Linked DNA regions of Homo sapiens: region 2 is linked to region 1. A link means that fine-mapping ties the variant in region 1 to the expression of a gene that starts in the linked region. Tissue or cell type: whole blood. Region 1 holds a variant in brackets; the other region holds the start of a gene. All regions are shown on one strand. Distances are between the middles of the regions. Region 1 overlaps SGPL1 (sphingosine-1-phosphate lyase 1). Region 2 holds the start of PCBD1 (pterin-4 alpha-carbinolamine dehydratase 1).

Evidence for each region.
Region 2: PCBD1 starts here. The variant in region 1 is fine-mapped to the expression of PCBD1 in whole blood (INTERVAL, PIP 0.91).

The regions. Positions count from the first base shown.
Region 1 is chr10:70,857,119-70,868,837 of GRCh38, forward strand. SGPL1 (sphingosine-1-phosphate lyase 1) reads left to right here. Exons shown (of 15, transcript NM_003901.4): 6 at 496-572; 7 at 2,253-2,381; 8 at 11,227-11,315. Among named protein-coding and RNA genes, the nearest start is that of PCBD1, 26 kb to the right of the region's middle. The variant A/G (reference allele first, on the strand shown) is at 7,079.
Region 2 is chr10:70,881,603-70,893,321 of GRCh38, forward strand. PCBD1 (pterin-4 alpha-carbinolamine dehydratase 1) reads right to left here and starts at 6,963. Exons shown (of 4, transcript NM_000281.4): 1 at 6,929-6,963; 2 at 4,196-4,327; 3 at 3,550-3,630; 4 at 1,908-2,446. The coding sequence starts at 6,931. The coding sequence ends at 2,348. RefSeq lists silencers at 6,220-6,499, 6,830-7,079.

The DNA of each region.
Region 1 (11,719 bases):
TGCTGGTTTCATCTCTGATGATAGTGTGCTGAAATTTCACACTTTTCATTTTGCTTTCTTCTGCCAACTCTGCTCATAATAGTTCTCAAAATTCCTAGGACTGGATAGGAAAGGAGAGAAGAAGGAAGCTATTGCAGAAAAAGGCCACTCCAAAGCCATATAGAGAACAAAAAATAAGTATAGACAAAGGCAAATGTTCCTGCTGTTAGAAGGCAGTTGAGGATGAGGACAACATTATTATCAGATTGCCTTTATTGTAGCTAAATGCTATTAATATCTTTTTCACATTGCTGATAATAATGATTTTTCATCTTTATTTTATTGTGCTAACTCTATTGAACTTTTTTCTTGATTTGCTATAAGAATGCTGTTGGGTTTCCACTCAACATTTTTTTCTTTTGTATCCAGAGGAGTTTCTTCCTGTTTCTTCTTTATCAGAACCTGTCTTCCCAGAGATTCTTGCTTACTGACCAGTGACCTTACCTTTCTCTGCAGACGCCTTCTGGCAAGAGGGGAGAGCCTCTGGAACAGTGTACAGTGGGGAGGAGAAGCTCACTGAGCTCCTTGTGAAGGTGAGTGTCCAGTTCTTGAGGGAAGCCTGTGAGGTCTGTGCCAGTTTACATGACCTCCTTTTTTTCCCTTACTTTTGTAATTAGAAAAATTACTTAAGGAAAGCTTATTGGTACAATAAAACCATAAAAGTTTCTCTTCACCCAAACATAGGCGAATATGTATAATATTATCAAAGACATCTTCAGTCTGTAAAATAGTAAAATGTTATTTATGTTTTCAGTCTTTGCAGATGTCCTGTCTAGAAGGCAGATTACTAGGGAAGGTAGTCCTGTCAGATGAGATTTTTGTGGTGAGACAGATTTTGTTTGATAAGAAGAGATAAGATAGGGAAACTCTTTCATAATTTTCTCAAATCATGTGACCCAAGATGAGCAGTGGTCTCATGTATACTTCAAATAATTCTCATTCTTAGCTTCTTCCATTTCTAATCAAATTTATTTTTATTTTATTTTATTATTTTTACAGACAAAGTCTCACTCTGTCACACAGGCTGGAGTGGAGTGGTGTAATCATGGCTCACTTCAGCCTTGACCTCTTTGGCTCAAGTGATCCTCCCACCTCAGCCTCCTGAGTAGTTGGGACTACAGGCGTGCATCATGACACCCAGCTAATTTTTGTATTTTTTTGTTGGAGATGGGGTCTCACTCTGTTGCCCAGGTTGGTCTTCAACTCCCAGCCTCAAGTGATCCTCCTGCCTTGGCCTCTGAAAGTGTTGAGATTACAGCTGTGAACCACTGCACTCGGCCCTCATATTTATTTTTGAAACTCCACTTCATCATATAAAATTGGGGTTGTACTGATGATCTCTAAGGTCTTTGTGTTTGATTATTATAAATATGAAACTGTCCCTTACTAAATAAATATGGCAGGTTTTGCATAAGTTGGTGTAATGCTCTGATCTTCTGTGCTTAAAATCTTTCAGTAGCTTCCCATTATCTACAGGATGAAACTCAGGTTCTTATGCAGCAGAGAATACAAGTTTCTTCATGAGCCAGCTCCCACTTATTTTTTCTTAACTACTTCTCTTCATTTCCCACATAAACACTAATCCTGCCTTTTCTCTTTACTAAATGTGTCATGCTTTTACGTTGTTTTCCTTCCCTTCCATCATTCCTCTTGTTCCAAATGATGATTCCTACTCATCTCTCAAAGTTCCACTCAGCAGACACCTCTAGATCACTCAGGATGTTAGTTGTTCCCTCTTCAGGGTCCCTTAGCACTCTGTACACACACCTGATATTGCAGTCGATAACAACAGCTGCTTTGTGCCAGACACTCTACTAAGTGCTTCACATGCATTATGTTATTTAATTATTGCTAGAACACTAGAAGATAGCTACCATAACAACTTCTGCGTATGAAGAAACAACCTTAGATTATGTGACCTACACAGCTGAAAGTAATAGGCAAAGCTTAGACTTCCTCCTGGGTCGGTTTGGTGTTATAGTCTGCGCTTTTAACCATATTTATACTTCTTTCCTCATCACATTGTAAAATTATTTATTTACATGTCTGTCTCCTCTGCTATGTTTTGATCTTTTGGTTGAGGAATATATCTTATCTTTTTTTCCAGTTTATATTGTTGTGCCTAATACTTAGAAACTGTTGTTTAGTGCATGATTCTTTGTCCTGTATAGTGTAATAGTTTTGATTTCACATCTGCTTGCATTTTTTTGCAGGCTTATGGAGATTTTGCATGGAGTAACCCCCTGCATCCAGATATCTTCCCAGGACTACGCAAGATAGAGGCAGAAATCGTGAGGATAGCTTGTTCCCTGTTCAATGGGGGACCAGATTCGTGTGGATGTGTAAGTATATGCAAGGGGCATCCAATAGCCTTATTTTTTAGGTTAAAATAGAAGAGTTTTTAATAAATATTAATTATATTTTAAAAAATAAAAAATATTAAAAATATTTTACTACACAAGAAATATTTGATCATTGTAGAAAGGTCATTTTACTACACAAGGAATATTTGATCATTGTAGAAAGATCCTAATTAACTGCAGTTTTAAATGTTACTTGTAATTTTGTAACCTAGACAATGTCAACATTTTGGTATATATTCTTCTAGATATTTTTATTTTCACCTTTTTATTTTGAAAAACTTTGAACCTACATTGAGTTGCTAGGATGGCTTAAAGAACACCTTAGATTCACTAAATGTAAATATGTTGCCATATCTGCTCTCTACACTCTTTCCCTCCCTACCCGCTTCTTCCCTCATCCCCCACCTGCATACCTACCATTCCCCTATTTATCTGTGTATACTTTTGTTGTTCCATCCAGCAGTGTTTTTAGTGTACTTCTGGTTTTACCTGAGCCAAAGTTTAATTTATTATTTTGCTGTAAACTGAACCTCATTTAGTTGCTATTAGGCATAAAGAAAGGGGGAGGACATCATTATATTTAAAGAAACACATGAGGATTCTTTGTTTTACCTGTTCTTTCAAGTAGATGGTTGTTAGTTTTCGTAAACTATGATAGATAAACTTCTGTTTAGATCTGTTGTCTTTAGAAAAAACGAAATCTCAGGTTATGTAGGATAGATAGATTTAACTCAATATGCTGCAATGGTGTCCTAGAGGTGCTAATCCTATCAGATACTCATCATATTTGCAGTCATTATAAAGACTGCAGATTTAATTATTGAAGGGCCCATTCGAAGAGCACCTAATTTAGTTTCTTTTTTTTTTTCCAGGAAGCATTGTTTTTGTTTTGTTTTTCTAATATGTTGGCGCCATGAAAATCATCATGTTCAAATATTAGTAGTAATAAAGGTGATATGCCTGGCATTCATTTTCAAAGCAAAATACTGAAACTGTTAAAAACAGAACCACCCATAATACAGCAGCAGTTTCCCTTAGAGTACTGAGGTGAACAGGGTGACTTTCAGAGGGAAGATGATAATGTACTTACAGTATATTCTCCTATGCCATTAGACTCTTGAAGAACTTGTAAGAGGCCAGAGTGAATAGCCACAGAACAGTTTGGCCTTATCTGGTAAATTTGAAGATACATATATCTTATGACCCAGAAATTCTGCTACTAGGACATACTCTAGAAAAATTAGTACACATATATATCAGGATATATGGACATTAATATTCATAGCAATGTTATTCATGATAGCTAAAAACTGGAAGTAATTCAAATGCCTATCCACAGGACACAGATGAATAAATTGTGGAATGCTGTGTGTGCCTCAATCCATTGTAGCTCTTATTCAGATTGATGTACAAATTGCCTCATCCATCTTTGGCCAGTGGAAACATCATATTGGCTCCTAGGTCCATTTACATGACCCAAGTAATCTTTGAAAGCCTTTTTTCTCTTTCTTTCCTTTTTTTTTTTTTTTTGACGAAATATTCCAGGTTCAGGTTCACTTTGTCCATTTCCTGCTCCAGGCCTTCAATCAGCCATTTATCCAAGGAGCCCTGGTTCATTTAAAACTAGGTAAAATAATTACATAGTTCCAAAATCACATTTATGGAACAAGACAGATTAAAAAAAAAAAGTTAACCAGAATGCAGTCCAGAGAGACAAAGAAATAGAAGGTATGAAAGAGAGGCTAAGAGATGCAAAGGATAGGATGAGAAGGCTAACACACATCTAACTGGTGTTTGAGAGCAGCCAGAGAAAATAGATTACCTACAAAGGCATAACTGTTAGGACAACTGATACTCAATAGCAACGATGGCTGGGGCAGTTGGGGGTAGATGAAAGATTGGCTGTAAATTGAAAATTGCTGGAGCCTGGTGATAAGTAGTGAGAGGTCACAGCGTGCTGGCAGTCCTCACAGCCCTCGCTCGCTCTCGGCGCCTCCTCTGCCTGGGCTCCCACTTTGGCGGCACTTGAGGAGCTCTTCAGCCCACCGCTGCACTGTAGGAGCCCCTTTCTGGGCTGGCCAAGGTCGGAGCCGGCTCCCTCAGCTTGCAGGGAGGTGTGGAGGGAGAGGCGTGAGCCGGAACCAGGGCTGCGCGCAGCGCTTGCGGGCCAGCTAGAGTTCCCGGTGAGCATGGGCTTGGCGGGCCCCGCACTCGGAGCAGCCGGCCGGCCCTGCCGGCCCCGGGCAATGAGGGGCTTAGCACCCAGCCAGCAGCTGCGGAGGGGGTTCTAGGTCCCCCAGTAGTGCCGGCCTACCGGCACTGCGCTCGATTTCTCGCTGGGCCTTAGCTGCCTTCCCCTGGGGCAGGGCTCGGGACCTGCAGCCCGCCATGCCTGAGCCTCCCACCCCCTCCGTGGGCTCCTGTGTGGCCCCAGCCTCCTTGACGAGCGCCACTCCCTGCTCCACGGCGCCCAGTCCCATCGACCACCCAAGGGCTGAGGAGTGCAGGCGCACAGCGCAGGACTGGCAGGCAGCTCCAGTCCTGCAGGCAGCTCCACCCGCAGCCCCGGTGCGGGATCCACTGGGTGAAGCCAGCTGGGCTCCTGAGTCTGGTGGAGCCTTGGAGAACCTTTATGTGTAGCTCAGGGATTGTAAATACACCAATCGGCACTCTGTATCTAGCTCAAGGTTTGTAAACACACCAATCAGCACCCTGTGTCTAGCTCAGGGTTTCTGAGTGCACCAATCGACACTCTGTATCTCGCTGCTCTGGTGGGGGCTTGGAGAACCTTTGTGTGGATACTCTGTATCTAACTAATCTGATGGGGACGTGGAGAACCTTTGTGTCTAGCTCAGGGATTGTAAACGCACCAATCAGCGCCCTGACAAAACAGACCACTTGGCTCTACCAATCAGCAGGATGTGGGTGGGGCCAGATAAGAGAATAAAAGCAGGCTGCCAGAGCAAGCAGTGGCAACACGCTCGGGTCCCCTTCCACACTGTGGAAGCTTTGTTCTTTCGCTCTTTGCAATAAATCTTGCTACTGCTCACTCTTTGGGTCCACGCTGCTTTTATGAGCTGTGACACTCACCACGAAGGTCTGCAGCTTCACTCCTGAAGCCAGTGAGACCACGAGCCCACCGGGAGGAACGAACAACTCCGGACGCGCTGCCTTAAGAGCTGTAACACTCACTGTGAAGGTCTGCAGCTTCACTCCTGAGCCAGCGAGACCACGAACGCACCAGAAGGAAGAAATTCCGGACACATCCGAACATCAGAAGGAACAAACTCCAGACGTGCTACCTTAAGAGCTGTAACACTCACCGCGAGGGTCCGCGGCTTCATTCTTGAAGTCAGTGAGACCAAGAACCCACCAATTCCGGACACAGTAGAAGCCCATTGGGCTTTTCAATTTTATTTACTCTAATTTCATTCTAAAGAATTCTGTTTTGTAGTTCTCCTTTTATTTTATTATTATTTTTTGAGACAGGGTGTCACTCTGTTGCTCAGGCCAGAGTGTAGTGGTGCCATCTCAGCTCACTGCAGCCTTGACCTCTCTGGGCTCAAGCGACCCTCCCACCTCAGCCCCCTTGAGTAGCTGGGACTACAGGCATGCACCACCATGCCTCGCTAATTTTTGTATTTTTAGTAGAGATGGGGTTTCACCATGTTGCCCAGGCTGGTGTTGAACTCCCAAGCTGAAGTGATCTGCCTGCCTTGGCTTCTCAAAGTGCTGGGATTACAGGCGTAAGCCACCACGCTTGGCCGTCTTTTTTTTTTTTTTTTTTTTTTAATCTGCTTGGTTGTTTTTTATAGTCCTTTTCCTTGGCTTAACTTTTGTTTACTTAAATATATTACACATAAATATGTTGTATTCTGTGTCTGATAATTCCAATATCCATGAGCCTTACCTGATTCTGCTGGCTTCAGTCATGGTTCCTTGTTTCCTTATATTTGTGATTTTATTTTATTTATTTATTTTTTTATGAGCCACTCATTTTTCTGGGAACCTAGGGATTCTTTGAGGCCTAGATTGAAGTTAAGTCTGGAAGTTCTCTTCTTCCAGAGAAGATTTGTCATACCTTTTTGAGTTGCTGGGGATTGCCACCACACTGGAACCAAATTAAGTCAAATCCTTAGCTTGTCATTTTGTACCACAGAGGTAGTGTGAATTCTGACCACAAACTCACATAAAGGCTTCCTTGTTACACATTCTTGAAAGATTGCTATTTTTCTTTACTTGAACATCAGGGTTGAGAAAAACAGTTTTTCTTTTCTCTTTTGCAGTAGTGGGATTTATTTCTTGTACACTGTAGAGTGTGGTCTTTTTCCAGCCATCTCCTGTTGGACTCCTTATCTTGGGCAGTCTCTAATGTATCTTCTGGTCCATCCTTTGCTCATCTGTCAGTGTAGGAGTTTGAAGTCTGAAGGGTCTGGTGCCACCTCAGGGTGAAAGCTAGTTTTGCCACTCACTTATCTTGCAGGATTCTTGATTTTGCTTTGTTTGGGGGTTTAGCAAGTTTCTTTATGTTAGGTTAGTGATAGGTTTAAATTTTTTTTTTTTGATGTTTTATCAAGTTTTTTAGTTATTTCAGTTAGGAAGGTTGCTCAAGGTATATAATATTGCTAGAAATAGAAGTTCCATAATTGTTTTTTCCATGTTACAGACCTTCGTCT[A/G]TTTGAAAGCCCCTTTCTCCCTGAATCTTCTCTGCCCCACATTTTTCTGGGTTACTCCGCTTTTCATATGATTTCACAGACTTCCAACCATCGCAGTCATTCTCTGTATGACTTTTGGTTGCCTCTGGCCAGATTGAACACAGTTCTCCACATTTGGAGTGGCATTGATCTTTCAATCTCTGTCTTTTTTAAATCTGGGTTCAATAAACTTATTTCAGACCTTTTCCTTGAAGTCAGCATTTTTATTCTTGGCAATGTTTATTTTATTCCTTGCTGTTCCTAATGTCTTTGTTAGTTCTGTATGGATGCTACTGGCTTTGTTTTTTTAGGTCTGTAGCTCATTCTTTTTGTTTCATGGTCTAGGTTTTGAACTCTTTGTTTTCTTAAATTCATGTTCTTATGATATTTTCCTATAGTGAGAAAGTTATAAGGGGTTTCCTTCATCCCTTAGCTTGTTTCCTTCTGTGTTGGGTTTTTATTTTGCATGCTACATACTACCTTTTCCCCTGCCTTTTAGTTTGTTTGCATAGTTTCCTTGCCATTTTCTCTCATCTTGGGGTGGCATTCTCCAGACATTGTTCTTATGCACTGTGGGTGCTTCCTGTCTGAGACCATTTGGCTGGGGACAAAGCTCAGCCAAAGCTTTGTTCTATCTGTATTAGAATAACCAGGTCTATTCTGAGATTCTCTTCAAAGTTACCTATCAGAGTTCACTCTCTTATTTGGAAGAGATAATATACCCTTTGAGCTCTGATTATTTAATTCACTGAAGTCTTCACTCTAAAGAGCCAATCCTGATGTTCTCTCTTCATTTTGCTCATTTCTCCCTAGCAGCCATGTTTACCACTCACTCATGAGAAGAAGAAGAAAATAAGGAAACCCCCTCAGCTTGCCTCTGCAGATTTGGGGGTATAAAGGAAAATTCTCAGGATTTTGCTGACTTTGCGGTACAGTTTCAAGGGCTGATTAGAAACTAGTGTTTTGCTTACTTCTGCTCTCTGCTGTTTCACTGTTTCTTTTTTTTTTTTGATTGCCAATATTTGAAGTTTATTGCCTAGATTATCTCTCTTTCCTTGTTTGGTTGTTGTTATTGTAGATTTTGACTCTTTTCTCTCCCTGCACTCACCCTTTTTTTTTTTCTTCCCATCTTACTCCTGAAGTCCAGGCCTAGGGGTTTTTTGCATTGCTGCAATTAAACCATATCTCTATTATTTTGATCTTCAGCACGTGTGAGGGATCAGAAGAAGGATAGAGTCTGATTCCCAGGCTCTTCTAATATTTAGACTTTTATAAAATAACTAATCAGCACTGGTATTGTCTTTTTCCCTCTCCCACTCTGTCTCCCCCACTCCTCCCTTAGCTTCTTACTTCTCTCTCTGGATGAGCTGCTTCTAGTGAAGAAAGAGTTCACTGTTCAGAGGTGGGAAGCCAGAAGATAAAACCAAATGGCTGGGCAGTCTTTAGGTTATTCCTAGCTAAGAGTTAAGAGTTGTAAGCTCTCTCATTCTTTGTTCTTCAGCCTTAAACTATCTTTCCTTCTATTAACTTTATTTGTCTCAGTTACAATGATAGAGGTAACTTCACATACTAAAAGAAATTAGGTTACCATGTGAAACATTCTTCTTGGCTTGTGCTAATGTTATCAGATCCAAACAGCATCTGAAAGAAAATTTTCCAAGTAGATGTTGTTCTCTTGTTTTCTGAAATACATATCATATGTTAAAGTGAGAGTTTTTATACATGTTGAAAGAAGTTGAATGACATAACAAATAGTTACTGAGGCCTCCATTTTCTTACTTCACAGTTAAAATTCCTGTTTCTCTTTGGGTATAGGAGGTAGAAAGAAGTGGGAGAGTAATAGCATTTTAAAACACAGAATCAAAAATACATATTAAAAGTAGAACTTAGGCCCAGGCACAGTGACTCACGCCTGTAGTCCCAGCACCATGGGAGGCTGAGGCAAGTGGATCGCTCGAGCCCAGGAATTCGAGACCAGCCTGGGCAACTAGGTGAAACCCTGTCTCTACAAAAAATACAAAAGTTAGCCAGGCATGGTGGGGTGTGCCTGTAGTCCCAGCTACTTTGGGGGATGAGGTGGGAGGATCTCTTAGGCCTGGGAGGTGGAGATTGCAGTGAGCCGAGATCACGCCATGGCACTCCAGTCTAGGTGAAAGATTGAGACCCCATCTCAAAAAAAAACAAAAAAGAAAAAAGTAGAATTTAGGTATTCCTACTTTTACAGTCAAAAGTCCACTGGTGTTTGCATAACAATGATGTTTTGACTAGTTATTGGACTAAAAGTAGGACACATGAAGCAGGTGACTAGGAATTTGGAAATATTATTGCTTAGGTCATTACTGGACCTTACGAAGAGATTGTTGCACTGGTGACTTGGACTTTGCTGGTCCCTCCCCGACTCTTCACAGCTGGCTTGACGACTCTTGTGACATTCTGAGGTTTTATGCTAAACCACAGGACATGCTGCTGATTTGCAGAGCTGACCTCAGCTGTAAGCACTTTGTCTTCTGCAGCGTAGAAATGTAGTGACCTACAAGTGTCCCATGCCCAAGTTGGGTGCATTATTTTTTGGTGATGGTCACATGTTTCATAAAGACTTCCTGAGTCAAAAAATGACTTTTCTCAGTTCATCTTCCATATAACTCCTGGCCACAGGGATTTTGTATCCAATGGTATTTTTGTTCTATGTGTGGATATTATTTTAGCAAAGTTCAGTGGTCACTTTCTCTGATTCCATCTTGTATTAAGCTACACTAAATATGAAAACGTAGAAAGTTTTACTTCTTATCAACAGATGCTAATGTATGACATTGAGTGAAACACTTTAATTCCTCAAGGGCTCAGTTTTCTCACCTGTAAATTGAAAAAACCTTTCAAAGATTGTATGAATCTTCAGAGATGGTAAGTCTAAGAAGTTGTCCAACTAGTTTAGTATTGTGGCTTTTTGTTTGTTTTGGAATGATTCATTCTCATATATTATTTTTTAAAAAAATAGCCAGGTGGCTATGACATGCCTGTGTTGGTCAAGGTTTACTGAGAGTCAAGTCAGGCATTAAGAAATGTGAAGGCCAGGTGCAGTGGCTCACACCTGTAATCCCAGCTCTTTGGGAGGCTGAGGTGGGCAGATCACTTGAGGCCAGGAGCTTGAGACCAGCCTGGCCAACATGGTGAAACCCCGTCTCTGCTAAAAATACAAAAATTAGGTGGGCATGGTGGTGGGCGCCTGTAATCCGAGCTACTCGGGTAACTATGGCAGGAGAATCGCTTGAACCAGGAGGCAAAGGCTGCAGTGAGCCGAGATCATGCCATGGCACTCCAGCCTGGGCAACAGAGTGAGACTCTGTCTCAAAAAAAAAAAAAAAATGGATTGAGGGTTTGTTAGGTGTCAGCCACTATGTCAGGTGCTAGGAATTTGTCATGAACAGACTGGTCCCTACTTTCATGAATTTATAGTCCAGTGAGGGAAATAAGATGAATAAAAAGACCCCTACGTCTTTTTGTTTGAACTCTGGTAAAGAAATGTGTTTATCAGAGGGGCTAGGCCAAACTTTAGGAAAACATTTCACTTCACTTAAAAAAAATTAGGATTTTTGTTTTATTTCAGATAAGGCAACAAACTTCCATCAAGTAGAAACTTCTGCTTTTCTCTGTCTTTCAAACTTGTCAAAATCAGCAGTTTACTTTGTTAAATCTGAATGTCTCTTTTTAGTGTATTGCACAGTTTACTAGAATTGTAATCACAATTTCACATTCTTTAACAGGTATTGAAAATTTAAATTAAAATTCTGATATTTTTGAATGGCATAAAATGCCCTATCTTATCTGAAAATTGAAAAATTAATACAGAAATGTAAATGGATTGTGAATAGGTGGGATCTGGCCAAGTGTGCATTTGTCTAGGCAGTGCTGAGTTTCTGCTCATTATTTAGTAGCTTTCATTCTTCACCTGAGCCAAAATTAGGCTTAGCCAATAAAGCCAAATTTTCCTTCTGGAAGACATGGCAGTGTCTGCCTTGCAGCATGCATCCAAGACCTTATCTGTTTCTGTATCAAACATTGTCAAGATCAGGGCATGAAGAGCCGGGGCATTCCTGACTCCCCCAACAGATGGCATCTCTTCTTTATTATAGGTGACTTCTGGGGGAACAGAAAGCATACTGATGGCCTGCAAAGCATATCGGGATCTGGCCTTTGAGAAGGGGATCAAAACTCCAGAAATGTATGTATGTGTGGCTGTTTTGTCCCCTTTTGGATTTGTCTGTCTGGAGTACAGCTTTATGAAACTAAAGCAGATAATCCATTTTCCTGCTGCTTCTCTTCCTCTGGTAATTCTGGTCCCCTTTCCCCCTGTCCTAGCCCCTCTGCCCTTATCCTTTTACATTCAGTAAAATTCTAAATGGATCAGCCAGTTATTTTTAAAGATCATTCCCATCCCGCCCCACCCCCAGATCATGCATAGTATATACTACAAGCAAAAATAAGATCCTTTTTCCAAAAGTGAGAGTTTGAGGACTACATCTTTGAATCCTGTGATATTTGCAAATTATTTGGAGCCTAAAGAAACCTCTCTAGGTACTTTAGTTCTGCTTACCTTAGAAAGTTACTTAATATTATAGGCTGCCT
Region 2 (11,719 bases), 24 kb after region 1:
AACATAACAGCATAGTCCATACCTCCGCATCTGGCGTCTTCTGTCCTTCAGTCCTCCAGTCATCAGATCAAAGCACACTTGGAAAATTTTAAGTCAGAAGTGGAGCAGATGGGAGACCACTGTCTGAATCTCGTTTGCCATCAATATAGGTATTGATAATCCTTTACTAGCATATATGCTAGGAACGGGGTCCTGCTAATCCCTCTTGTGAACAATACGCTTATTTCTCAACCTCCAGCCTCTGCCCCTTTCCTGGCCTTTGCTGGGGGACCAACTCATTCAGACTGAGTTGTGACATGGCTAGATTCCTGTTCCAAGTGACCCCGGCATTTACAAGTCAGCTTAGTACTTGAGTTAGGAGACACAGGTGAGAACTATTAGGAAGAAGGCTTCCCAGTCTCTGCATAGTGACATATGTGAGGTAAAATTTGTGTGGCATTCTCGTGGGGGTAGAGATGAGGCTGCTCTTAGTGCCCCCTTCTTCATGACAGCGTGGGAATATTCTGTCCTAGAGAGTTCCTGGCTGGGGAACTGACTGTGCAAACCATCTCTTAACTGCTCCAGTAATAAATAGCCTGCCAGGTCCTAAGCTGCCTGTGTCTTCTCTCTTGTGGAGTAAACCAGGCAAGCCCTAAGAACTTTGCTAAGATTTTAAGAAACTGAAGAGACCATCAGGATTTGGGATCTGCCATATCTGATATGATAGGCCTGTGTATTATGATTCTCCAGAGAAACAGAACCAATACACACAAAGAGATTTCTTATAAGGAATTGGCTCATGTGATTATGGAGGCTGACAAGTCCCAAGATCTGTAGTTGGCAAGCTGGAGAACCAGGAAAGCAGATGGTATTGTTGCACACCGGAGGCTTGTAGCCTTGAGACCTAAGGAGAGTGGATGTTTCAGTTTAAGTCCGAAAGCAGGAAAAGACCAATGTCCCACCTCAAGGCAGTCAGGCAGGAGGACTTCCCTTTTATTTGGAAGAGGGTCAGCCCTTTTTAGCCCTTTTTTTCTGTACAGGCCTTCACCTGGTTGAATGAGGCCACCCATGTTAGGGAAGACAGTCGGCTTTACTCAGTCTACTGATTCAAATGTTATCCTCATTCAGAAACACCCTCACAGACACACCCGGAATGTTTGACCAAATGCCTGGGCACCCCATGGCCCAATCAAGTTGACACCTAACATTAGCCATCACAGCCAGGAAGAAAATATAGGTTGAGTATCCCTTATCTGAAAGGTGTGAGACCAGAAGTGTTTCAGATTTTGGATTTTGGAATATTTGCATTATACTGACAAGTTGAGCATCTCTAATCTGAAAATCAGAAATCTAAAATGATCCAATGAGTATTTCCTTTGGGCATCATGTTGGCATTCAAAAAGTTTCAGATTTTGGATTTCCAATTTTCAAATTAGGGATGTTCAACCTGTAATATGGCCCCAGACTGCCTTTCTAGACATAGGTTCCACAATGCATATAATACCTGTGCCCTTCACACCCTTATCTGTGTTCATGGTGTTCTCTCAGCCATCTCTGCCTCCCAAGAATCCTACCCAGGTCTTCAAGGCATAACTCAAAGCCTCCAGATTTGCCCTTTTCACCATTAATCACTTGCGTTCCCTTTAGCTCATTTCTTATCCTGCCACCTAGCATTAATTCACTCTAGTAATAGTTAATTAGTACTAGTTAATTGGTAATTGGTAATAGTTAATTGTGTTCCTGTTTGATGATAATCAAATGGTATCCCCTAGATGATAATGAATCTGAAGGCAAGGTGGTCTGGTCCCTGTCATTTTCCAGTACCTTGAACAGAGGAAGTGCCTAGCACAGAGGAAGTGCTTTCATTTAAATGCCTATTGACTCCAATTTGGATTGACCTGTGGAAAAGAAGTTTCTAGAGCCTGAGACCAAGTGATATAATAGTTTTATTTGAGACATAAAAACACATGTGTTTCTATTACATAGTGTGGGGTTTAGGGTCCTGGTTTCTAAGACAAGACTTTATTTCACCCTGTATCACAGCTTCCTGGGAAATGAATTAGGGAGCAAGAGACGGCCTGGCAAGAAAATCATTATTGTTGCTGGGAAGTTGCAAAGAAAGGGGAGAGTTTATTCAAATTAGTGTAACAGAGCCCCCAGGATGAAGAGAGTGGTGCAGGGAAAAGGTCTAAATTCCTGGTGTTGGTGGGGACACTGGCACATCCCACAGCAAGGACTCAGCCCTCAACGGCGGCGGCTGGGTCTTGGGAGGGGAGTGGTGGGAGGGTAAGGGCTCCTCAGCTCCCTCCCTGGACTCCCAGTTCAGTCACCCCTTCCCCCGGAAGAATTCAAAGAGGAAGGGCAGGGTCTATGTCATGGACACTGCTACTTGTTCGATGAAGCTGGCCAGGTTTATGTCCCGTTCTGAAAGGCCGGCACACTCATGGGTGCTCAGCGTGATGTGGACCTGAAATGAAACCAGAAATTCTGCTTCCACTGACTTCACTTAAGAACAGGAGGGAGTCACTAGCTGCTGGGCTCAGCCCTGCTAGGAGCTCCAGAATAGCAGCTGGCCAGTACGATCTCTCCTGGGGACTCCTTCCTGACATGTCTGTAACAACATCTTCTACATCTCCCCTTTGCTGTCTCTCAAAAATAATCATGACTTCAGCTATAGAATAAAAGCTTAATATCTGAATGTCAAGAGCAACCTAAAAGCTAAAGACAAAACCAAAAACCAATGCCAACTCCTAAACACTATCCATTCATAGACGACCTCTTCCACCCTTACTGTTTTTATAAACAGAGACCAGCAGAGCTTTTGGCACATGGTAGACATTTAATGACTGTTTCTATTCATTAAGCAAATAATTTGATAGGTTGGCTATGTGTCTGTATTTTTTTTTTTTTTTTTTTTTGAGACGGAGTCTTGCTCTGTCTCCCAGGCTGGAGTGCAGTGGCTCAATCTCTGCTCACTGCAAGCTCCGCCTCCCGGGTTCCCACCATTCTCCTGCCTCAGCCTCCCCAGTAGCTGGGACTACAGGCGTCCACCACCGCGCCCGCCTAATTTTTTTGTGTTTTTAGTAGAGACAGGGTTTCACCATGTTAGCCAGGAGGGTCTTGATCTCCTGACCTCGTGATCTGCCCACCTCGGCCTCCCAAATATGTGTGTATTCTTAGTTCAAGTTTATTACTTTTTCATTCTTCCATACCTCCAGCAAGATTAAAGCCATTTAGAGCTATGAACACTGAATAAGTATGCCTGATTCCCACAGCCTTTCCTTTCTTGGGTTTTGCCTTCTTAATGTCTACTTAAATGTCTACTTTAACCACAACTATCTCATGCATCTTTTAATTTGCATTTCTTTATAGTAAGACTGATTTTTTTTTCCCAGGGGTATTTATGTTGATTCTAGGCATGTGCAATCTCAGTGAGATTGGAAATGAGATGAGTGGATGACCTATGGGTCAGGAAGGCTCATTGTTAAGTCCAAAAGCCTTCAGAATGTGTCAGAGTTCGCAGTATTTGGATGGGGGCAGAGCACAACAGAGGCACACAGCATCACTCACCTTGTTGTACACGTTAAACCATTCAGGATGGTGGTCCAGTTTCTCAGCCTGCAGGGCCACTCTTGTCATGAACCCAAAGGCCTATTTAAGTGGAGTGAGAGCCAGGTTAGTGTTCTAAGAGAAAGGACTTCTGGACATCACCAATTCAAGGCCTAGACGCAGGAGGATGAATTAGCTTCCCCCCAGGAGACTCCTCTATAATCATTTCCCCCTTGACATCCTGTCACTGGTTCTCAGGCTTGAGTTAGAGATTGTCCTTGCAGTAGGAAGAAAGTCTTGCTATTTAGGATGTCAACAAGGTGGAAACACCACAACAGGCTTTTGGCCTGGCCAGTCTTGGCCGTCTGTTCAAATGTCTTCAGATGTGCATGGTTTCCACTTGAACTATCTCCTCAGAAGACTGCTGCTAAAAGTTCCAGGAAGGGAGAGCCCAAGACACATCCTCCTATGGCTCTCCAATCCCCAAAGATGATACTTTCTGAGTTAGACAGGAAAATTAATTTCCCCACTGGCACAGTGCCCAAATAACTGGATGAGTGTGGTGTCTGAGAGTCTTGGCTAACAAGACGTGAAGGGAGAGAACATGCTTTGTAAGGTGACCCCATCAGCCCGTCTCAGAAAACTCTGTCCCACCCTGGTGCCATACCCTGTTGAAGTCTTTGAAATGAAACTGCTTGAAGATGGCATCACGGCCTTCCAGCTCATTCCACCCCACAGCCCTCAGGTTTGGCAGCAGCTGGTCCCTCTCCTCAGCGCTCAGCCTGTGTGCTTTGCCAGCCTAGAAGAGGGAAAAAAACAGAGGCCCAAGGGCATTTCTCTTTATAGGTCAAAACAGAGGGGCTCCAACCTTTAGGGGAACTTAGCTTCCACTGGCTGCTTTGGACGTGGGTGACCAAAGGGCAGCAGGTCTTTGAGCAATAGGCTGGGAGGCCTCAAGGGTGGCACCCTGCCCAGGAGGTGGGGTCCAGGCTCGTCTGCCGATAGGCCCTCAGGTCTTGGGTTTTAACACTCCACACACACACAAGGGAAATCACAAAAGCAATGTAATTCATATGACGGGGACAGAGAAGCACTCTTCCCCCACCCTGCCCTCAAAGCCTTACGGACCTTCCCTCCATGAGATTATTACATCAGTGAGGGCGTAAAAGCAAAATAAATCCCAGATGCAAATATGTTACTCCACAACCTCTCAGGAAGAGTACCCATGACTCTCCCCCCTTCCTTTTCCTATTATGTACTTCATCATATGCACCCCACGTCCCTACCGTAACTTTCACGTGTATTGAAGAGGAAACAGGCCTAGAGAGGGGAAACGACTTGTCTGCTGTTCTTTCCCGCCCACCCCTAGCCAGTGATGGCGCAGTGTTGTCTGTGTGTCAGCATTGCTGGGGCTGGACGAAGGAGCTACATTTAAAATAAGTGTCCATCCCATTCTTAGCCACACTGCAGCTGACCGCCGTTGGCACTACCTCTAGTAGGTCCTCAGTCATGCTCCCAGGCAGCCTCTGGTCCTGAGCCGCCAGGGCTAGGTTTCTCTGGTTTTCCGTCTGCTTTTCTGGCTGGTTGGGAAGCTCAGGCCAAAGTGGAAGGAACTTGGCCAAAGGCAGCTGGCAAACCTAGTGCCCCATCCTATTTACCTAATGTGCGAAGTGCCCTCAAGGCAGCCCAAATTGGCACAATTCAGGCCATGAGTGGAACCTCAGAGAAAGCAAGGAAGCAAGGGTCAGTTTCATCCTAGGAGGATCCAGGTCTAGGAGCTTAACAGATCCCAGAACCTAGGCTTCTAGAGTAGCACCACCCCAGGGCAGAAATAGAGTGCTGAATTGAAAAGATACCCTTAGGGGTGGGGAGGGAATGTGAGGGAGGTTGATTTAGCTTTTATGAGGCAGCCTGCAGACTGGACACCATGTGTTGATTGGCAGGAGTTTTGAGACCCGCTTTCACCATTTACCAGCCAGGTGGCTGTACCTCTCTTGGCAGAACCTCCACCTCCACAGATCATCATGAGGTGCCAATGGGACACTTTAGGAAACTCCACTGCTATAAAGCAAATGTCATCTGCATTACAAAAAAAAAACTTCCTAAGGCAAGCAGGCTTGTGATGGGCCTGGTAGCATTTGGGGTAGCTGAAGCATCGCAGTGCTTTCCTAAGTCCGTCTTTTTTCCCTGCTGTTTTCCCTCCTGAAAACGTGAGCTCTCTCTGGACTGATGTAGCTTGGCCCCTCTCTTCCCCTCGGCTCTGGATGACTATAGGGATTGAATGGCAGCAGCGATTTGCATCATCTGCCCAGTAGGTAGGTCTCTACTCCAGAGCTGGCCTTCTCCCCGTGGCTGACCGCCTGGTCCGTGTATCTAGACAACCAGAAGTCAGCCAAAGCATCAGAGCCCACTGTTTACTTCCTTGGCTCTTAAAGGGGTGGGTGAGTCCAGGTGAGCTCTTAGGAGGCTTCCCTTTCTCGGTAGAGCCTTCTGGAACCCCCCAGGTCGCACAGCCTGCGGCTGAACTGACAAACCTTCCAGGTGCCGGCTCTGGAGACAGAGAGGGGGACGCTGCCCCGTTTGCCTCCTCTGGCGAGGTGTGGGGAGTGGTTACCGATTTCCCAAGCCTGCATCTCTGGGACCTCAGCGCCCCTCACAAACAGCCCCACTCATCCTCCCTCCCCCAAGTCCCTCTCCTATCAAAAGGCCCTCCCAGTCTTGCCTGCTCCGAAGGCCTGTGGACCAGAAATGGTCTGATGAAGCTCGCGAGCTTACAGCAGAGCAAGGGCCCCGCCCCCGCCCCCGCCCCGGGGGTGGGTGGGGGAAGCTCACGGGAGGAGGGCTGCTCCAGCGCCACCAAGCCCCCGTGGCCTGGCACGGGCCTCAAGCCGGCGCGGGGAGTGGCTCTGGGGCCAGCATACCGGCGCAGAGCGTGAGTCCCAGGCAGACCCCGTACCCAGAGTGCCAGCGGGAAGGGGCAGCGGACAGGCACGCACACGAGCGCGCAAACTCAGCCTCCCTCTCGCTCCCACCCCAGTATAAAGCAGAATCGGGCCACCAAGGGGACGAGATCCGTGGACTCCTCCACGACTGTCTTCCCCGGCCCAGGAAGGTCGTAGGCCCCGCCCCCGGAAGGGTCCCGGAACAAGCACTGGCCGGGGTCAGGGCAGGCCTGGCCTCCCAACTGGGTGGGATTCGAACCCGCCACCGCCCCTCTCAGGGCTTCAGCTTCCCCTCCCCGCCGCCAGCGACAGAGAGCCGGGCAGAGACCCCACTTTCGGACCCCGGCGGCTCCGCAGGGGACTCGAAAAGACTTTCCCCCGCCCCTTCCCGCTCCCACCTCGCCCGCGGCTGCCCCGGCCCCGCTGCCCCGATCGCGGCCGCGCACCCCTGGACTCACCATGGCGCGGGCGGCAGCAGGTGGCCAGCGGAGAGGGCAGGCGGCGGCCGGGCGCGCAGGCTGCCGTCCCGGGGCGGGGCCGCGCTCGGGCCGCCCTCCGGTAATGATTAACGTCCCCAGCCAGGGACGCGCTCGGCCTGCTTGCTTCCAGCACTTTCCTCGCTGCTCAGAGCCATCCTCCGTGCTTGTTTCAGGGAGCTAGGGTGAAGCATGAGGGCTCCAAATGCCCGCTTCTGGGTTGGAATCCCACCCCGCCGCTTACAGCTGGGTGGCCCTGGGCGCCAGAATACCTATTTTTTTCTTTATAAAAATCTCTTATTTGGATATAATTGACATGCAATAAATTGCACATATTCAACGTGTACAATTTGATAAATTTTAATGTTTCCCTCGTGAGACCATCACCGAGATCAACATTATGAACATATCATCATCCCTGCAAGTTTTCCCTTGCCCTTTGGTAACCCCTTCCTCCCGAAACCACCTGGCCAGGCAAGCACTGATGTACTTTAGGTCACTATAAATTAGTTTGCATTTTCTAGAATTTTATGTAAATGGACCATAGAGTATATACTAGGCAGGATAACTGTTTTGGGGTTCAGCCATGTTGTTGCCTATATCAATGGTTTCTTCCTTTTATGGCTAAGTAAAATTTATTTTATAGTATTGCATTGTACAGATAGACTACAATTTGTTTAGCGATTCACTATTGGACATTTGCGTTGTTTACCTTTTGGCTATTACAAATAAAGCTGCTGCGAATATGGTGCACAAATCTTCGAAAGTACGTATGTTTTAATTTTCCTTGAGTAAACACTTAGGAATGGAATGCCTGGGTCATGTGGTAGGTGGACTTTTATAACTTATTAGGAAACTGCCATACTGTTTTGCAAAATGGTTGTATCATTTTATATTCCTAGCAGCAGTGTATGAAGGTTGCAGTTCTCTGTCCTCACCAACACTTGATATAGTCAGCCTTTTAAATTTTAATTGGTGTGTAGCAGTATCTCATTGTGGTTTTGAGTTTCCTTGATTAGTAATTGTATTGAATGTCTTTTCATGTACTTATTTGCTAAGGATAAGTTTTTTTTATTGAATAGCATGTTTGAATTTCCTGCCCATTAAAAAAGAAATTGGGTTGTCTTCTTATCGAGTTTTGAGGGTGTTTTATTCTGGATATAAGGACATGATCAGGCAGTGATTTGCAAATATTTTCTTTGCATTATCTTATGGTGCCTTTCAAAGAGCAAACGTTCTTAATTTTGATGAAATCCAATATATCAAATGTTTCTTTTATGGATTTCTATTTTGATGTTGTACACATAGAAATCTTGGCCTAACCCAAGATCAAAAGTTTTCTCCTATGTTTTATAGCTTTTGGTTTTACATTTAGTCTGTGATCCACTTTGAGTAAATATTTTTATATGCTTCAAGTTATAGATCCAGATGCACTTTTGCACATGGCGACTCAGTTATTCCTTTCTCCACTGAGTTGTCTTTGCACCTTTGTAAAATATCAATTGACTGTATACATGTGGGTTTATTTCTGAGCCCTTTCTTCTGTTCCATTGATCTGTTTGTCTGTCATGACAGAACACTACCTTGTCTTGATTATTATAGCTTTATAATAAGTCTTAGAGTCAGATTAGAAAAGTCCTCTCACATTTCACATTTTTCTATTAACTTTTATTCTTGTGCTCCACTTTTATTCCCCGCCCCCCACCACCGCCCATAGCAGCCTCTCTAATGTGTTAATGTGTATTTTTGTTTGCACAGGTTCTTGCAAAATGTGTGGTGTTGTTTCGTCTATGTGTATTTTTAAATTTATGTAAATGGTATTATGTAAATATATTACATTTCTCAGTCTGTTTCTTACAAAACAGAGTATTTAGTGGAAAATTAAGATCTACCCATGTTGCTATATGTATATTCAATCTGTAGCTTTTAACTGCAGCCTAGTATTTTGTAATGAGAATCTGCCATGGGTTTCTTGTTCTATCAGTGATGGACACTCAGGTTCCCTTCAACTTTCTGCTGCTACCACCACCTCCCAAGCCCGTGAGCATGTGGGCACACAAACACATACGTACACAGAGTTAAACAACAATGCTGCTGCAGTGAACATCTCTAATTGCTCCCTGGGCTGTGGGCAGTTTCTTAGGCAACTTAAGTATATCCATACCCTATAAATCCAGCAATTCCCCCCATGGGTGTGTATCTCAAAATAGTTCTAGATGATGTCCAGGATGGGGACACCAGTCCTCATTCTCTCCTGCATGGTGTGAGGGGGTACTATTTCCATATGCATCTTACACATACATACTCACACTTCCCATTAGCCAGCTTTTTATTTTTTTGTCAGGCTAATAGCTATAAAATGAGAGCTTGTTGTGATGCAGGATTTTTCTTGACCCCTTTGCTGAGGTTGCAGCAGGGAGTGCCTTATCTACTCAGCTTGCCAGGCCCCATCTGGCTTGTGTTACAGCCCATGGCTCACAAGGCCACTGCGACTGTATGCTCAGCCCCTGGCGGGAGGGAGCATGTGACCGAGTGAATGCAGGGTCCAGCCAGCTGCACTGAGCCATGACACAGGAACAGGCTCTGTGTGGGGCCCACAGCCAGATCAGGTGTGTCACCCCAAGGAGACTGTGGCAGCACCCAGGCAGGGGTGCCTGAAGCCCCAGAGAGGGGTGTTACAGTGTGCTAAATAGCTCTTTTATCTCCACCATCTGCAGCCTGATGGACAGCGGCATGTTGGCAGCTCAGGCGGCCCCTTTCTCCACTCTGGCCCGTGGCTCCTGGACCAGCTTGGCCCTGCTGCAGCTTCTGTTCTGTGGGGCAGCTGCCCTCCACCAGTGAGGGTAGAGGGCCAGCGTTACAGCCTTTGTGGGTGCCCACATTTGGTGGGTCCTGAGCTCTTGTTCTGCATCCAAGAAGAATGAGGTCATGCTGACAGTTGAAGGGTGATGAGGATGGAGAATTTTATTGACGATGAAACAGCTCTCAGTGGAGAGGGATTGAGAAGGTGGGGTTGTCTATCTCAGTGTGGCTGAGTCTAGGGGGTTTTATAGGCACAGGATTGGGGAGGGGCGGGCTGTAGGTAGTATTAGAAAAGGCAACATTTGATTGGTTAAAAAGCATTATTCAGAAAGAACCAATCAGGAAAGGGTGGGCAAACAGGAACAGAAGTTCTCACCCTGGTTTGAGGGGTTTCATCCCAAACCAGCAGTCCAGGCTGTTTTTGGCTTGAAGGTGGGGTTTCACTGGGGACCCACCCCCATCTGCCTAGGAAATTGTCTGCCTCCTGCCGCTTTCAATTGTTTTACTCTACATTGTTTTCTGATGACTAATGATTTTGAGAACCTCTTCATATGCTTGTTACCATTTGGGGGTTACTATTTGTGAATTGCTTTTTAATATCCTTTGCCAATTTTTGAGAATTTTTAGTGCTCTCTTTTTTTAGTTGGTTTGTGGGTGTTTATATAAAATCTAGACATTAATTGCTTGTCAGTTTTGATATTGCAAATATCTCCTCTCATTCTGCCATCTGTATACTGACTTCTTGCATGAGATCCATGATGTCTGTGGGCAGAAATCTTATATTTTGGTGTAATAAGATTTATCTTTTTTCCCTCTGCCTTATAATTTTGTGCATTTGAAAATTTATTTGATAAGTCCTCTCCCCACCCTGCTACAAAAATATACTCCCTTTTCTTTTGTTAACTTTATAGTTAGATAGATTTAAGACCTAAATGTGAAAGGTCCCTTTTGGTATGTAGTGTTAGGCAGGATGTTAGTCTCCAAAGATAGCCCCCAATGAACCATGACTCCCAATATTCACACCCTGCATAGTTCTCACCCATGTTGAATCTGGGATGGCCCAGTATGACCAGTCAAATATGGCAGAAATGTCACCATGTGACTTTGTTTTGATACAGTGTCTTGCTCTGTCGCCCAGGCTGGAGTGCAGTGGTGCAATCATAGCTCATTGCAGCCTTGACCTCCTGGGCTCAAGTGATCCTCCTGCCTCAGCTCCCCCAGGTAGTCACCATGCCTGGATAATGTTTTAAATTTTTTACAGAGACAGGACATTTCTATGTTGCCAGGCTGGTCTCAAATTCTTGGGCTCAAATGTTGGGCCTTGGCCTCCCAAGTGTGGGATTCCAGGTGTGAGCCACCACATCCAGCTATAACTTCTAAGACTAAGCCAAAGAAACTCTGGGAACTGTTAATCATTCTCCAGCCACGTGAGTGAGACTCTTGGATGCTCAGACCTGCCAAACCTTCAGATGACTTCAGCCCCAGGAGACATCTGACTTCAATCCCACGTGAGGCCCCAAGTGAGACCAGTCAACCCGTGGAAGCATGAGAAATCATAATTTTTGTTTTAAGCCACTCAGCATGATGATTTGTTCTGCAGCAATAGGAACAAATGGCAGGAACAAAATTTGGTGCCTGAAAGTGGAATGTTGCTATAAAAGCAACCTAAAATGTGTAGCGTTAGGTTGAGAATGGGTGGTGAGAGACGGTGGAAGGAAAGACTTAAGGACAGCAAGAAGTATTCACCTTCCATCCAGGAGGCAGAAAGCCTTGCTATCATACTTAACAATGAGAAAAGACTGCATGCACTACAAAGTCATCACTTTTCTTGAGCTCACCAGGGAGGTGAGCTCACAGGGCAACCAAGTATCCTGAATTCCAAGGGGGCAGGTCCCTCCAAGGAGAGGCAGGATGTGCAGTCTGGCTCACTTGGGCAGTGCTTGGAGGAAGGGGCAGCCTCCATTAAAGTGG